2 separate regions of the Homo sapiens genome follow, and region 1 is linked to region 2. Evidence: fine-mapped expression QTL. Tissue or cell type: whole blood. Region 2 holds a variant in brackets; the other region holds the start of a gene. All regions are shown on one strand. Distances are from middle to middle. Region 1 holds the start of STK17B (serine/threonine kinase 17b). Region 2 holds the start of LOC124906154 (small nucleolar RNA U13).

Region 1 (8,865 bases), 40 kb after region 2:
AGTTGGCAGAGGAAGTTTCTTAGCAAAGTGAAAAAGGAAGAGATTTATTAGGGAGAGCTAGTAGGCGTTATCTACTCAAATCAAATAGACAGCACCCTATATTTATACCCTGTATTTATTTCTTTGCACCACTTGATATCTACTTCCTTTAAACACTAGTGACTAATTTCTTTATCTCACACGGCCCCCTGGACTCCACCATTTGTTGACCCTTAGAGCTTCATTCCGAACTTGGGTGTCTCCACCAGATAGATACTGAAAGGAAAAGCAGTCACCTCCCTCTCCCCTTTCCTTTCCAATGACATTTTTCTCCCAATGATCCCTACTAGCATCAACCATAAGATGTGAGGAAAATCGAAAGTATCTTATAAAGCCATTTGACAAATATTTATATAGAACCCACAATGTCTTGAGCATCTTGCTAGTCACAGGGCGCAGTAGTGCACATGGGGAGCTGGCAAAGCACTGGTAAATAATAATAGCTTGTAGGAACAGAACCAAGGGTTTATTCTTGTTAGGCACTGTTCTTAGTATGCATTATCCCATTTCAATCTCATGGAGGTAGCTATTATTATTATCCCCATTTCACAGATGAGAAAACTGAGGATCGCCCAAAATCACACAACAAGGAATGGGCAGAACTGGGACTTGAAGGCAGGGCTGCCTGATGTCACACACTTAACCACACATATATCTTCTCTTTCTCTCTCACAGCTTCTCACGAGGTAGAACTTTAGAGCCTGGTGTGTTTGTGGCTGGAGCATAGCAGCTCTTCTACAACTTTACTGTAGTTTCTACTGAATATTTTGGTTTGCAAATATAAAGGATTCTCTGAAGCACAACCTTAAATAACGTGTGGTAGACACCTGGGAGAGGAAAACTGCAGACAGAAAAATGTGGCCGGATGCTCTGTGGGCGGGCGGCAGCGATGTTCGGCCAGGTGGCTCCAAGGAGAGGAAGCAGTGATGCATTGAGGTAAGAGAGCTGACAGATGAAACCACATGGACCCTAAGACAGAGTGGAAGGAGGGTGCCTTAAATATTGTAGGGTGTGCTCTTATCAGGTTATGAGAATGCAGTTGGGATACAGGTTTGCTTTCTCTTGCCTGTATCATCGGAGTGATGATTCAGATAAATTTAAAAATTACTTTATTCTGAAGTATGTCTGATGTGAAGAGGCTTAAATAATATCTTAGGATTAAGAGTCAGGAGACCTAAATTATTGTTCAGATATGTACCACCGAATTTAGGTGTGTGATCTTTTGCAAGTCCCTCAACTTCTCTCACTGTAGGTTTCTTCCCTTCTAAAACAAGGGAGTTGGGTTACTGAACTGCAAGAATTTTTCTAGCTCCAGACTGCTCTGATTGTCTCTAGCACTGGAAATTTAGACACAATTAGAAGGCACGTTTCTAGCCCTTCAGACCTACACTGCCTAACTTAGTAGCCACATGTGGCCATGAAACACTTGGGATGTGGCTAACATGACAAAATTTTCTATTTTATTTCATTGTCATTAAATTTATATTAAGAAACTGATACTGTATTTAGTTATTGAAAAACTTTATTTATTTTTGAGACAGAGTCTCGCTTTGTCGCCCAAGCTGGAGTGCAGTGGTACACAATCTCGGCTAACTGCAACCTCTGCCTCCTGCGTTCAAGTGATTCTCCTGCCTCAACCTACTGAGTTGCTGGGATCACAGGAACCTGCCACCATGCCTGGCTAATTTTTGTATTTTTAGTAGAGACGGGGTTTCACCATGTTGGCCAGGCTGGTCTTGAACTCCTGATCTCAAATCATCTGCCCGCCTTGGCCTCCCAAAGTGCTAGGATTACAGATATGAGCCACCACACCTGGCGTGAAAAACTTTAGTTTGTTCAAAACAACTTAGGAATGTGAATCTGCTTTTTGCAACAGTAAATTTTGTGAAATCTAAATACAGATCAAGTGTTTCCGATGAAAATTTGGCATCTGAATTGGGACATGCTGTAAGTATAAAATACTAGATTTAAGACAATATTAAAAAAGGAAGTAAAATGTCTCAATAATTTTTGTTGATTACATGTTGAAATGACAATGTTTTAGAAATATTGGGTTAAATAAAATAAATTGTTAAAATTAATTTTATCTGTGTTTACTTTTTAAAATATGACTAGTAGAACATTTGCCAATGTGCGTGGCATTTCTTTTGGACAGCTTTTACAGGACAGGTTATACTCTATAAACTGCAGTGAGTGGTTGGATTGGCATATTGGCCCTAGTTGATCATGGATGTTTTGGAGAGGAAAGCTGTGTCACCCTTTAAGGAAGACACTTGTACCAGTCTGAGTTATTACTCTCATCAGACAAAACTAGCCCCAATTAGCTTTGCTAATAGTGTTTCAAGAGAGTCAGGGGATGTGAGGTCTCTTAGAGTCTCTCTGGTTCTCAGTGCTTTCAAAATTGCAATGTGCTGTAGGCACCATGAGTAAATGCACTGCGACATCTCCATCTGAGTACACTCACTATTCCTACCTCCAGAGAGGGGATCTGTTTGGAGGAGCCTGTCTCCATTCAGTGAGCACCCCTGTTGGGTGGGGGGTTGAGCCACGCCCCTTCAGAGGCTGTTGGCCTTGCCTGCGTCTGGCTACCTTTAGCCTAGCCACAGGTTTCTGGTATATTCAGTTCTAGACAGGTAGTAGAGCTTGTTTTGCCTTTTCCACATGAATTCTTCAGAAGGAGGGTGTGTCAGTGGCAAGAGTTTTGAGTTTGAGGCCTTCTGCTCTGTGCAAAACCCTCCTTTTCTGCATCTACAGGGAGTAAACATGGAATCGGTGAGAATCACTTTCCTTGATCATTATGTGGTCAGTATGCGGTGACTGACTTGATGTGACTGGGGAAGGTCCCTTCCCTGGACAGAATATGGTGAGTGTCGTGCCATTACCGGAGAGGATCACCTTCCCTGGCCACATGTGGTAAGCAGTGACTGGGAACGATCATCGCTCCCAGTCAGTGTGTGATTACTAACCTGGAGTGATCCAGGAGGACCACTGTATTTGTTTGCTTGGACTGCCATAACAAATACCACAGAGCGGACAGCTTAAACAACAGACAGTTCTGGAGGCTAGAGGCTGTTGATCAAGATATCAGCAGGTCTTGTTTCTTCTGAAACCTCTCTGCTTGCTTTGCAAATGGCCACCTTCTTGTTATGTCCTCACAGGGTGGTCCCTTAGTCAGTGTTGTATGTGTCCTAATTTCTTCTTATCAGGACACCAGTCATCTTGGATCAGGGGCCACTCATATTATCTCATTTTACCTTAATTACCTCTTTAAAGGCCCTATCTCCACATACGGTCATACTCTGAGTTCCTGAGGGTTAGAATTTCAACGTATGAACTGGAAAAGAACACAACTGAGCCCATAACAACCGCCATCCCTGGTCGGAATGTGTCATTCAAGGATGGTCAACTTAATGAACTGTGTGGTCAGAAGCAATGACCACAGAATGACCATCAGGTCACCTGGAGATTTCCTACTCAAGGGAATGAGAGCAGGAACATATATCTTTGACACGGTGATGAATGAGTTTAGGTAAATGAGGTGGATGGAGGAATGTATTGACTTCTGAATTTTCCTGCAAGGCCACAGATGTACTGCCTCCTCCTCAGCACCAGGAATTCCTTGTTACTTGAACCACAGTGCCTGAGACCAAGTAAGTGTAGTTGAATGTCCTTGGGATAGTGTGGTAAGTCCTAGTTAACAAATCTGACATCAGGCACAAGGGTTAACAATCTATTTAGGGTCATAAAAGAAACACAAACTATCAGCCCTGCACCAAAGAACATAAGGCAGAGGTGATCAGGCTGGGAACAGAAAGTAGGAATCAGCAGAGTTCTGATTCCTGAAGAGGGTAACCTTCTTAAAGTCAGAAACTGATGAACAGGTATGGATGAGGAGGATGGTGATAAGCTGGAGCTAAGGCAGAAGCAGGAAAATGCAAGACATGACAATATCCCTAGGAGGCTGGCTGGTTACAGCAGAGGTATTGTGACCAAGAGGACTGGCTTACAGTGGTGCCAGAGAGAGAAAAGTCTGTGTCTAGGTGTGAAGTGATCTGGGACTGGATTAGTGACGGGGAGTATGGGGTGAGTGTGAGAAGATTGCTAAAAGCTGGCAATTGATGAAATGTTGAAATTAAGGAGGTCCAAAGTTAAACACACAACCCCAAAACCACCATAATGATGTAATCCTGTGACCCCCAAGAGGTTACTAGTTTTGGTACTGGTGCTGAGACCTCTGGAATGCAACACCTATGCTCATGAAAGAAAAGATGGGAACAGTCTCATTGCTTACGGATTCTTATACCCCAGAAAAGTTAATTCCAGTGTGTGGCATTTTATTTTCATCCTAACTTTAGGCTTCTCTAGTCAGCCCAATTGTTAGCAACAAGAAATTAGATAGATGGAAGCAATATTCTCCATTTGACAAGGTTTAGGGGCAAGACATTATTAACCTGGGAGGAGGAGTTAACCTAAGTAACAACAAACAGACTTCATAAAAGGGCTGTGATGCATTCTATACCTTTATCTTGGGGAAAATGCAGTAGGAAAGGGAAACAGCTAGCTTCACAGGAATTTGCTTGGCTTACTGGGATAGAACAAGAAAACCTGTCCTTTATATGCTAACTGAACATTAAGTCTTTTGAAAGCAAGAGGACGACTCCACTCCCAGTATCCTTTCCCACGGAAGGGTTTTCTGCAATTATCGTAAATGTCCTCTGAAAGCAATCCTAGATTACATAACTAATCCCATATATGTATGAGTATGTGTGTATCCTATACATATAAACTAGGATTATATATCTATGTAAAACATTTGTGTCTTGCACAGAACTTTGAAAATTTCCACTGTCTTCAAAGGATAACAGATCTTGAGTAGGTTGCTGAGGGCTTTCATCTTTTTCCTTAGCACTATAAATGCAAAATCGGCTATTCAGCCTATTGGGACCCTCCCTACACTGCCTTCAGTCAGTGCCTCAGAAGGGACACCATTCGCGACAGCGGACGTTAGCAGTGGGGTCTAGGTTCCATAAATCCCCAACTGATGTTGACACTCCGAGGAACCTCTGCCAAGTTGTAGCAAACTGGGTTCTCCACTTACAGGGTACGTTCCGGTCCTAAGGAAGACTCTCAAGAAGAGTCAGAAAATAGGTCTTTGGTAGGCACTGAAGTTTGGTAACTAGTCGCAGGCAGCTGGGACGAATTTTGCGGCTTCCTTCTCCCCGGTCTCCGGATATTCACACCTCTCGAACTGACCTCTCTGAAGGTGGGAAGGAGTACACAGAGCAGTAGTTCCAGCCCCGCGCGCCCCCTCTGCAGCGCCGCCCCCTCCGCCCCTCCCTCGCGGCAGCCCGAGTGCGCCCCACCTGCGCCGCCACGCCGCCGCGCCTCCCCGCCCCGCCTCGGGCCAGCCAGGCGCCGCACCCTCTCACCGCCGGGCCCCGCCCCGCACACGCGCCCCCGGCCGGTGCCCCGCCCCTCCCGTCACGTGACAGACCCACCCTCCGCACCCGTTCCGATTGGCTCTCCCGACCTAGGGGGAGGGATCTGGCGAACGGCGATGCCCCAGACGCGGCTGCAGTTTTCAAACCGCGACTGCAAGCTTCGGTAGTCCTCTCCGCTGCTGTCGCCAGGAGTCACTTCACGAGAAGCCAGGTCACAACCGTCGGCCCTTGTCTGGAAAAGTAAAAGTGGATCCTGCCACGTTCGGAGCTCCCTGGCGCCTCGCCCGGCTGGAGCTAGAGAACTCGTCCTGTGGCGGCCCCCGGCGTGGGGCGGGACAGCGGCCCCCTGGAGGGGGCAGTCCCGGGAGAACCTGCGGCGGCCGGAGCGGTTAGTGTCCTGCGGGATTGGCGGGTTGGCTCGGGGCTGCGATGGAACCAGCCGCCTCGGTACAGAGACCTCATACGTGAGGAAGGAGGACCCGAGGAGGGTTTAGGCGGTACGGTCCGGCTGAGAGGGGCTTGGACTCCGCCGCCCCTGAGGTGGCTGATTGCTGCTGGCGCCTCTCCGCTTTGCGGCTGGAGTCCGGGTTCCCTGGGGCTCCGCGCGGGGGGCGGCCGGCGGTCCTCCCACCACCCTCCTCAGCCCGGGGCGCGTGTCTGTGTCTGTGCGTGTCCGTGTGTCCCCGTGCGCCCTCCACCCGGCCGGCCCCGGCTCTCCCCAGGTCGCGCCAGGCAGGGCCCCCTTCGCGGCGGGCCCGCGCGGGTCCCTTCCACAGCAAGGCCACGCGGTCCCCCTAGCCTCTCCCGAGTCCCAGCTGCGGCGTGGGCGCGTTCCCATCGGGACTCGTGGACGCGTCCTGCTCCCAGCTGCCTTTCGTCTAGAGAAAGTTCGTGTTCATCTTGTGGGACGTTTTCAGTTACTGCTTGGGAACAGTGTTTTAAAACCAGCGAGAGATCAAGACGGGCTACAGCTGTTTCCGTGATTTTCAGCGATCTGATTTTTGCTTTGATGCCTTGTGACCCACTTAGTGTGCACGACTCATCCTCAAACTATACCACTACTGGATGCCAACGATTTTTGACATTTACCCAGGCTCTTTGTTTTATTGTAGGGAAAAGCGTTTCATTTGAATTTCCTCCGAGGGAGAAGTAGAGACAAAGTTGAAAGAGGCTTTATAGCAGCTGGTAGCTGGCATTAGTTTCTGTCTGGACTAGAGGCACTCTGACATCAATTTGGAAATTGGAATTAAGAAAATACGTTTTTAAAATCGTAATACTTATCAGATTTCACTAATATTTAAACACATGAGGACTGTGTATCACATTCACCGATTGTTTTGTCGACGTAATGTTTACATCTGTGGTGCTAATGATAAGCAGAACCTTGCCAGGGACGTTTGACGTGGTGTGGCCACTTTACGTTTTCAAGTCTATGAGAATGTCTGCGCGGAGACAGCATAGCTCTGTAGAAATGAGTGGCAGCGTATGTAACCTGGCATTTTGAACCCAGGAGCACAATTTTATTAAAGGAAAATAAACCTACTTTCTCATTGATAACACTGTTTTTTAGTTTTATGGTGAACTGTTCGGAAGTAATTTTCAACAAGTGCTTATTTTATAAATATTAGACCGTGTACCCCTAGGATTGTGTATTTTTTAAGAAAACTGGTCCATAGAAGCGGTGCAAAAGTTTTAAACTCATCTGCCTCGGATCCTCCTCCTCTGAGCAGATGCTCAATTAAACTTTTTCTAGTATCTTAATAATTGGAGGTATTAATAGATGTTTTATTTTTGAGATACATATTGTACATTTTAGATCTTTTTTTTTTTCTAAAGTAGGGATCCAAAATTGAGGTGAAATATATTTGCTTACATGGCAAGACTTTTTAAAAGTAGAATTTCTGTAATTGAAGACCATCCTTTTTTGTGTGTGAATAGAATGGTTGCGGTTTCTCTTGGGATCATTGATTAGTGAATTACGATTTGGTTAAGATAGAATGCGTTTTTAGGAAGTTGGAGGTTTGACTAATCGCTGTGTTAGCATATGAGTAACAAATTTGAAGAAGATACAAGCATTTTTATGGCTGACGTTTCTAATCAGATAATTTTATTTTTAAGCTTGCTCTGTTTTACTTTTGTTAAGTGAACATTTTAACATGTTTTAAAGCTCTTTGATAATTATAAGGGAGAATTTCCTTATGAAAATATTTTTGCTTTAATTTTAGAGACACAAGAAGTCAAGGAATTCAGTTAATAACACTTTCACTTAATCGTTAAATTGCCTTAAAATTGCATGCATAGTATATTGTAATTCACATTTTCTGTATGTAAGATTGGCAGTTAAGAATAGTATTCTGGCCGGGCGCAGTGGCTCAAGCCTGTAATCCCAGCACTTTGGGAGGCCGAGGCGGGCGGATCATAAGGTCAGGCGTTCGAGACCAATATGGTGAAACCCCGTGTCTACTAAAAATACAAAAATTAGCCGGGCATTGTGGCGCGCGCCTGTAGTCCCAGCTACTCGGGAGGCTGAGGCAGAAGAGTTGCTTGACCCGGAAGGCCGAGGTTGCAGTGAGCCGAGATCACGCCACTGCACTCCAGCCTGGGCAACAGAGGGAGACTCCGTCTCAAAAAAAAAAAAAAAAAAAAAAAAAATAGTATTCCTAGGCTTACTACTTTTAAAGGATACTGATTGATTCTTCTTTTCATAAAGAAATCTTCTGCACTGTATGGGTATTTGTTTTGTCAGAAACATTAGCAGTCATTTATCTACTACCTTTCCACTTAGGAAAACTTCAAATGTCAGTTGCTTTAGTTTTTCATAATATTGATGACAAAATTCAGTGATTTTATGTTTAAGTACTGTAGTTTGTATTCTATGCTGGGCTGTTATCAAAGGCTATTTCTTTGAATATTTCAGTTAAGAAATGTTCTTATAAAGTTACAAGCATGTATTTTTATTTAAATATGTTGTAATGTTGCAATTTTCAGGGCATACTTTATTAAGTTTTTTATTATCCTTTTTCCAGAACATTTAACCTCAAACTTCAGTGCCATTTAAAACATATATATTAGTTTCTTTTAATATTTATATGCATTGTATTTTGGTTCATCCCTGACCCTTTGCAATTACTCCAAAAGAGGGTGTAGTGATACTGTAAGCATTGAAAAATTTTAACAGTGAGATGGTAATTTCCTCTTTAATCCTTAAAGGCAGATTCCATTTTGCATTGTAATAGTTACTGAATAAATAGTACTTAAGCGGTGCTATTAAGTAAACAATATTTTACAACAGAAACCCAATTTTCCGTCTTGTGAGTGACAAGCACCATGCATTTGTTGCCCACCCCGGAATCCCCCACTCTATTTCCGTTTTTCAACCTTTTAT
Region 2 (8,919 bases):
ATGGTTAAAATAACTCATTTGTTGTTCTTCTCTTTACTAGTTTCACTTAGTGACCGTTAAATGAAAACAGAGACCTCTTGGTTTCACTTAATGTTGTTTTTGTTTAACTTTTGACATTCATATGATCATATATACAGTGTTATTCCTTAGTCTTAAAATTATAGACAACTTGTAAAGAATTCAAGAGGATGATTTATGTCTGGGGACTCTTCGTGTCACGTATCTTGGTGGCTTAATATAGAAGAGTCAAAGTAACATGGGCTTTTATGATTGGTTTGATAGGATACCATGACAATCATATTGTAATTCGGTGGTTCTGGGCTGCAGTGGAAAGATTCAACAATGAACAACGACTAAGGTTGTTACAGGTGAGATGCCATTATTTAATCTTTTAAATGTATCAATATGATTATTGTTGGAAGTGTATGTTTTTAATAACTGCTAACTATTCTCCATAAACACATACCATGTGTATCTGGAAATATGAGATACACCATTTCCAGACTCCTGATTGCATGGTTATGTGACTCCATGGCTATTCAGAACTTCCCTAAGCCAACTTAAAGCATTTCATGAGAGTTTAGGGAAGTGTCAAGTCCAGTCCAAGAATCCCAGTAACAACATCTGCCTTCAGGACAGCTTGGACCCTTCAGCAAGAAGCACCCAGGGTACCCAAAGTGCAGGCCGGCATCCCTAGCAGCAGAAAGAAATGATTTTAAGTTCTTTAAAAAGGGATGCAGTTAGTTGACAGTCCTTTCTTCTCTTTCATCTAACTTTCCACAAATTTGAGAAAACAGTGACATTCAAGAACAGTGGGAAAACTAACTTGTGTTTTTTTTTTTTTTGCGTGTGGTGTTTATGGTCATCCAGGACAATTACTGATCAGTTGCAGCTATAGAAATACCAGACACAAGGAAGTCTCTGGATGCTCAGGCAGAGCCTTACAAGTACTCTTAGCTCCTTTGGATCTTAGCTCCTTTGGATTAAGGGTCTGGGCCTCAAAATTGCAGGCCCAGACATTCTCTTTTTTAAATTCACCCGACATTGATCAAGGACTGATGCTAAGTTGACTCGGGTTAATTGATCCCACTTTATTCATCTATAGTGGGAAATGTGCCCGGTTTAAGCTTCTGAGCTGGTCAGCTGCATCAGGTGCTTTATTTTCTACAAACCCTCCACATCCCCTTTCCCTTTATCATGCACAGTATTCTCTTTCTTAGTATTATCTTCTGGCTCTGTGTCAGAATTGTGTTGTGATTATTCCACACCTGTGAAGTTTTGTCTTCAGAACTTTCCTGCCTGCTCTTCCTCAGGAGCTCTGCCCGTGAATGACGTGATGCCTTTCCTGGCTGTTGGTCTCTGGCTTCACCTTCTCCTTCTGTTTTCTTGGGTTGACAGTTTGTTACAGGCACATCCAGCATTCCCTATGAAGGATTTGCTTCACTCCGAGGGAGTAACGGCCCAAGAAGATTCTGTGTGGAGAAATGGGGGAAAATCACTGCTCTTCCCAGGTAAAATATAAAATAACATTTCTTTACTGTCACAACATTTGGTGGAGACATTCATTTATGTATATATTGATTAATTACTGCTTTTATATTAAAAGTTTGGGAGAGCGGAAAAGCTCTTAGAATGAATTTCTCCCTGATAACCTTTCTAAACGAAGAGGAAAAAAGATCTCTCTGGTCACACTTAAAATACATACATCCATATCTTAAAATACAAAACACAACAAAAGCAAAGTATTTGTTAGCATCAGTAAAGCGACGTTGGTTATCATGCTTGTGGCTTATGATTGTGGCTCTAATCAGGTGTTTCCAGAAGCTTGAGTTTTAACTTTATAACTATTTAGAATCCCTTCAGTAAAAATTACCGTTGTAGTTTCTAAAGGATATTAGATAATGTGGATGTGCTCTAGATCTCTTTAGCCTGTCTCGTACATGTCTTAATTCCATGCTCTCTGCATTGTATTCTCATTCATAGTAAGATTACATATTTCCTTAGAATAGAAAAAAAATGCTTTGCTGTTGCTGCTAATAAAAGCAAAAGACTGATCCTTTTGCAATTTGTCAGTGTGATAATTGGGTGTTCATGCACATATGTGAGATGTGCCACCCTCAAGCCTTATTACAACGTCCACACATTACCCATCTGATATGGAAAATAGAAGCAAGGACTAGTACAAAAAGTGTTTGAGATTGAGTGGAGATAACTGGAGCTGGAGCAACAGAAAAGGAGCATATGAACAAAAGAGGAATGGAAGAAAATTTGTTTTAGAATTCCTTTATCCAATTAGTAGTAATACTGTAGCATTTTTGAGGTAAAAAGGAGCTGAAATTGCCTCTAACTTTACTAATAATACAACTATACTCTAGAGAGATTAAATGATATTAGGTACCCCAAGATGTTATCCTAAATTGAAGTATAGATGACTTTGAGAAACCTATTTTATTAGTGATATTAGGTGATATTATTGTTACTATATAAGGTGACATTAGGTACCCCAAGATGTCATCTGTTTCTTTAAGTACAAGCAACTGAGCAATCTGTTATCAAAGCTTTCTTCTTAGCAATTGAAAGATGCCAGTTCTTAAGAACTGTATTGTCAGCATCAACAGATGAGAAAAAGGGTGCTGAAAATACAAATGGAGAGAGCGATAAAGAATGACTGCTCAAGGGTTTGCCTGAGCCTCCTTGGCCACCCCACACGCATCACAGTCTGAACAGGCTGTGCATCCAGACACCTAAGTATTACCTGGCATATTTGATTTCCAAATCTGGGAATTCATTATTTGATTTCATTATTTAAAGAACTAGCTCATTTTATTTATGCTTGGATAATGAGTTTTCTCCCCTTCAACACATAAATCAACAGATTTAGCCTATCTGAATAAGGCTTTTTACTCTTCTGAGAAACTCTTTAAGAATTTGCATTGAAGAAGGAAAGGGTAGATTAATGGTCAGCTTTTTGTTGAAATCTATTTCTGTAAAGCCACTAAAGTATATGGAATAAAGTGCAACAGTAAGCAGATATGTCCACTGTTCATATTTAATCACTGTAATTTTCACCAAACCTGATGGGTAGAGACAAGTAATTTGATATAGACCTGGAGCTTTAGCTTCAGAGAGACCTAGGCTGAGTCCCACCTCTGTTACTTACCTGCAGCAGGGTCTTGGTGAAGTTGCATGATCCTTCTGAGCCTCTGTTTCCTCATCTATCTGGTGGATTTGAAATTCTGAGGATGATGTGAAATCATTCATGAAAAATACTTAATACTGTCTCTGGCCATGAGTAAGCATCCAGTCAGTGATCGCTGCCATTGTGATTTCTGTCACCATCATCTGTAATACATATCAGGCAGGATATTTGCATATTGGAAAGAGGGCAGGGGTAGGAGTTAAAAGACCTAGCTTCTAGTCCCACCTCTGCCACCAGCTAACTCTGGGACCTTAGAGAACACTTCATCTTTGAGCCTTGATTTTCTCATTTGTAACAGGCCTGGAGGAGGTGGTATATTAGGTTGGGTTGAGCAAGAAGTAACACCGAAGGGTTGCTGAAGAATCTTGAGGGTCAGGCTGGATTTGCATTTCTGCTTCCCCCTGGAGCTCCAGGAAGTTCATGTGCTAACTCATTGTAAATGGTGGT[A/G]TTCTTCATTATTGTAGCATACACACAGTTGGGTAACAGGCACTGTCCTTTCTCCCTGTCTTCACTATGACCTAAGTTTGCTTCTACATTCCTAGTTTTACCCAGATTATAAAACAGCACAAATAAAGATGGTCTTAGGCACATTGAGCAAGCAGCCTCTTTTCATACCCTCTCCGTAACAAGCCCCATCTTTTGGGGTCTGATGAGAAGAAAGAGTTACTTGGCTTTTCTGCTTCAGAGTTGCAGTCACCTTATGTAACCCAGGTAACACGCAGGAGCACAGATCTAAGCCCTATGACACACTAGTTACATCATCCTAAGCAAAACCCTAGATCCATCCCTCTAAGGTAGGAGTAACAATGTTCAGAGTATTTTTGACAATTGTAAGATAATGTATATGAAAGGCTTAGGAACACTGTGTTTACTTTGTTCTTTTTTAACTTTTTATCCTGACTTTTGTAAGCCACTGTACTACTTTAACTATTAACATTGGCTCCACAAAGAATAAAAGTACATTCGGAGGGAAAAAATTAAAAGAACTTAATTGCATGACAGTATAGTTATATGAGAAGCAACTTCTTCATTGACAACATTGTCATCACCCTTAATGAAATGTGGGGCATTACTTAGGTGTAAAAAAAGATCTGTAAAATTGGTTCTGGCCTAAAGAGATTCTTTTATATTATCAAGTCCATTTCTCCTACCATCAGAACAGATACACTGAAGCCATTTTTCTGCTATTTTTTGATAGGCGTTAAGTTGCACAATGGAAGAGCTGGTCTGTCTCAAGCTAGTTGGCCCCAGTGTATTTCTTTTTCCTATGAGTGAAATGATGTTTAACATTTAAAATGTGACATGGTACAAAAAAATAACAGATGCTGGTAAGGTTGCAGAGAAAAGGGAATGCTTATACACTATTGGTGGGAGTATAAATTAGTTCAACCATTGTGGAAGACAGTGTGGCAACTCCTCAAAGATCTAAAAACAGAAATACCATTCAACCCAGCAATCTCACTACTGGGTATATACCCAAGAGAATATAAATCATTCAGTTATAAGACACATGCATGTGTATCTTCATTGCAGCTCTGTTCACAATAGCAAAGACACAGAATCAACCTAAATGCCCATCAATGGTAGACTGGATAAAGAAAATATGGTACATATATACCATGGAATACTATGCAGCCATAAAAAAGAATGAGATCATGTTCTTTGTAGGAACCTGGATGGAGCTGGAGGCCATTATCCTTAGCAAACTAACACAGGAACAGAAAACCAAATACTACATCTTCTCACAAGCGGGAGCTAAATGATGAGAACACAAGGACACATAGAGGGGAATAACACTCACTGGGGCCTAATGGAGGGTGGAGGGTCAGAGGAGGGAAAGGATCAGGAAAAATAACTAATGGGTACTAGGCTTAATACCTGAGTGACAAAATAATCTGTAAAACAAACCCCCAGTGACACAGGTTTACCTCTATAACAAACTTGCACAAGTACCCCTGAACTTAAAATTAAAAAAAAAATTACATTGCACACATGGGAGAAAAATGGATAGATGTCCTTCTTACTTAAAAAATGAATCCTGGCTGGGCATGGTGGCTCACACCTGTAATCCCAGCACTTTGGGAGGCCAAGGCGGACGGATTGCCTGAGGTCAGGAGTTTGAGACCAGCCTGGCTAACATGGTGAAACCCTGTCTCTACTAAAAATACAAAAATTACCTGGGCGTGGTGGCATACGCCTATAGTCCCAGCTACTCGGGAGGCAGGAGAATCGCTTGAACCCAGGAGGCAGAGGTTGCAGTGAGCCGAGATGGCAATGCTGCACTCCAGCCTGGGCGACAGAGCAAGACTCTGTCTCAAAAAGAAAAAAAAAGAATCCTCTAAGAAGTCTGGCATGGTCTTGTGTCGGGCATGGGAGTTTCTGCCCTGGAGGGTTGGAGGGGCTGTAAAGGATGAGGGCAGTCCTGGCAACCGGAGCAATGAGGGAGAGAATCTTAGTCTTTCTAGACAAGGATGATGGAGGGCCTTTCAATTTTCAAGCAGGCAAATGTGAGTCTCATTCTTTTCTCAGATTTCCTAGTCTCACTTTGCGGTAGCAGTGGATAGCGCTGCTCACAGTATGAGTCAAGGAGTATATAAAAGTATATATGGTTGTCTCTGCAGCCAGTGCAAGTTGAATCCATGGCTCTTTTTTCCTCTTGTGGTTATGAAGTGACTAGAGACCCAGATGATAAATAAGGATGTAGACAGAAGGGTGTCTCCATGGAGACCTACAGCCTGAGCACATGACTGCACTTCCTCTGCTTCGCGGTCGGTGGTTAGCTCTGTATTTTGCATTTCTGTGGAAGACTTCATACCCCTGGTGCTCTGATGGACTTTATGAAAAGAGAGTACATTCACTTTGTGGCAATTGCTCTCAAACAGTCCAAAAAATGCGCTGCTAAGATGCCAGCCTGAAAACTGCAGAGCAGTCCTGTCTCCCACCATGGTGTGAGTTTCTGTGTTCATCCCCCAGGTTCTTGCCAAGTTGGGTGATGGGACGGAGGACCTGAGAGCTGCAATCGTCATGGGGGTGTGTTGGTTATTGCCAAAGGGAAAAGCGTTAATTTTTGAAAATGGCTGTGTCTGGAGATTATTATGAATGAAATGCTAACTGAAATTAAGAAATAAATTGTAAGAGTTAATTATGAAATAGATGTCTTATGGAGACAGTTAATCTAATGGAATAGAACTTTAAAAGATAAAATTATTTTTTAAAAACATAACAACTTTTTGTTTTTAAAATTCTGCTTTTTGGCAGAGTGCAGTGGCTCACACCTGAAATCCCAGCACTTTGGGAGTCCAAGGCAGGCAGATCACTTGAGGTCAGGAGTTTGAGACCACCCTGGCCAATATGGTGAAACCCCCATCTCTACTTAAAAAAAAAAAAATACAAAAATTAGCCAGGCATGGTGGTGTGCACCTGTAATCCCAGCTACTCGGGAGGCTGAGGCAGAAGAATCACTTGAACCCAGGAGGTGGAGGTTGCAGTGAGCCAAGATCATGCCACTGCACTCCAGCCTGGGTGACAGAGTGAGACTCCATCTCAAAAGAAAAAAAAATCTGCTTTTTATTCTAATTTATAAAAAGAAAATTTTACAAAAAATTGCTAAGAAATATATGTATATATTAAATATATATTAAAATACCTACATATGTATCAATCCAATGTCCACCCAATGTCCACTACTAGCTGGTCATGGTGGTGCATGCTTGGAGTCCCAGGTACTTGGGAGGCTAAGGCTTGAGCATGGGAGTTTGAGTCAAACCTGAGCAACATAGAGAGATACCATTTCTGAAGGAAAAAAAAGTCAATTACTAAGATAAGCTCTGTTAACATGTTAGAGTATGTGATTTCACTCATTTCTTCAGGTACACACAGGCACACAGACACACACATACACACACACACACATTTTAAAACAACATTCCGTTTATCACATGGAACATCTTTCCATGTCATTAAATATTGCTCTGTAATGTTATCAATAATTCAGTTTTCCCTCCTCCATTATAGGGAGCATTGTCTACTGTCAAAGTGAATTATCAGCCAGTATACCGGAAAATAACCAAGTCCTGAAATACAATGTCACTTTCCTCAATTAAAAGAAAAACCAGGCTGGGCACAGTGGCTCACGCCTGTAATCCCAGCACTTTGGGAGGCCAAGGTGGGCAGATCACGAGGTCAGGAGATGGAGACCATCCTGGCTAACATGGTGAAACCCCGTCTCTACTAAAAATACAAAAAGTTGGCCGGGCGTGGTGGTGGGCGCCTGTAGCCCCATCTACTCGGGAGGCAGAGGCAGGAGAATGGCGGGAGCCCGGGAGGCGGAGCTTGCAGTGAGCCGAGATCGCACCACTGCGCTCCAGCCTGGGCGACAGAGCCAGACTCCGTCTCAAAAAAAAAAAAAAAAGAAAGAAAGAAAGAAAAACCATCAGAACAAGAGATGAGTACTAGAAGGACCCTTTGGGGCCATCTCCTTTCTATATTTGCCCTGAGGTGTCCCTCGTTGGTCTTCCTAATTCCCTACCGCCTGCTGATGAGCTGATGTGGCTTTTCGTGTGGGAGAGAATTGACAGGAGATTCTCATACAGTGGTCTGCTCTGTAGTTGAACCTCAGGTCCAAGACTCTCTTCAACTCCTTTCCCCTCTGCCCTCTCACTCAGTTCTATATAACTGTATTTTAAATTTTCACTTTATTCTGCCATTGAATCTGCATGTACTAACAAAAACATGCCAGAGTTAACCCATCACATCACCATATTAAAGATTCTTAAATGTCATATACCTTTTGGATTGGTCTTTACTTTGGGAGGTGGGTAAATTTATCATAAAAACAGATTGTATTAAAAAAAGGGACTCTTCTGTAATTAATGTAAAACGTCAAGCTATTGAAAGAATTTGTGACTTTAATGGAATGAGATAATCATTCCACTTGCATTCCATCAGCATTGTTGCTGCTGACAACAGAGGACAGGATAGTCCAAGTCAAATCTACTAAAGGTCCTTGAGAGCTATTTCACAAGTCAGATTTTAAAGTGTCTATTTGTGAGTGACAGACATTGCAACAGTTAAAGAATGCTTACCCACTTTTCCTTGGCCTCAAGAGCAAAAACCAGTTTGGGCTCATTTCTTTCCACCAGCCTAGTCCATGACACCATCCCCCCTCACCTGGACTACTGCAGTAGACTGCTGGCTAAATCCCCTGCTTCTCCTGCATCCCACCATTCATTCATTCTGCACTCAACAACCACTGGGATCTGCAAACATCTCAAGGTCACCTCCCTCCCTTGCCTACACCCTCTGGTGGCTTAGAATAAAATCCAGACTCCTTCCCAAGGACTTCCTGTGGGGCCCTGGTCTGCCTCCTCCTGCAACCTCAACATGTACCCTCTCCCCCAACCCATGACACCTACCAGCCTCCTTCTGTGTATTCCTCAAATATGCCAAACTCAATTATGCTTCAAGGCTCAGGGAATTGCTGCCTATAACACTTATCTGCTGGTCCTTCATGCCTGGCTCTTTCTTGTCCCCAAGACTCGGGTTAGAGGTGATCTCCTGAGAAAGGCCCACCAGGCTTCTGTCCTTAGTGCACCTGTCACTCTTTCACCCCTTACTTCCTTCACTAGGCTTGACCCAATTCAGTCATCATGTTCAGTTATTGGTTTACTTGTTGATTATCTGTCTCCTCCTCTGGAGTATAATCCTGTGAGAACAAGTAC

Evidence for each region.
Region 1: it holds the start of STK17B, and the variant in region 2 is fine-mapped to the expression of STK17B in whole blood (TOPMed, PIP above 0.99).

The regions. Positions count from the first base shown.
Region 1 is chr2:196,168,336-196,177,200 of GRCh38, reverse strand. It overlaps STK17B (serine/threonine kinase 17b), which reads left to right and starts at 5,623. Exons shown (of 8, transcript NM_004226.4): 1 at 5,623-5,868. It overlaps LOC101927454 (a long non-coding RNA gene), which reads right to left and starts at 5,662. Exons shown (of 2, transcript XR_923737.2): 1 at 5,570-5,662; 2 at 4,353-5,296. RefSeq lists an enhancer at 641-900 and silencers at 5,328-5,557, 6,078-6,297.
Region 2 is chr2:196,208,457-196,217,375 of GRCh38, reverse strand. It overlaps HECW2 (HECT, C2 and WW domain containing E3 ubiquitin protein ligase 2), which reads left to right. Exons shown (of 29, transcript NM_001348768.2): 27 at 283-368; 28 at 1,399-1,511. LOC124906154 (small nucleolar RNA U13) reads left to right here and starts at 2,054; the gene lies at 2,054-2,157. RefSeq lists an enhancer at 5,601-5,650. The variant A/G (reference allele first, on the strand shown) is at 3,647.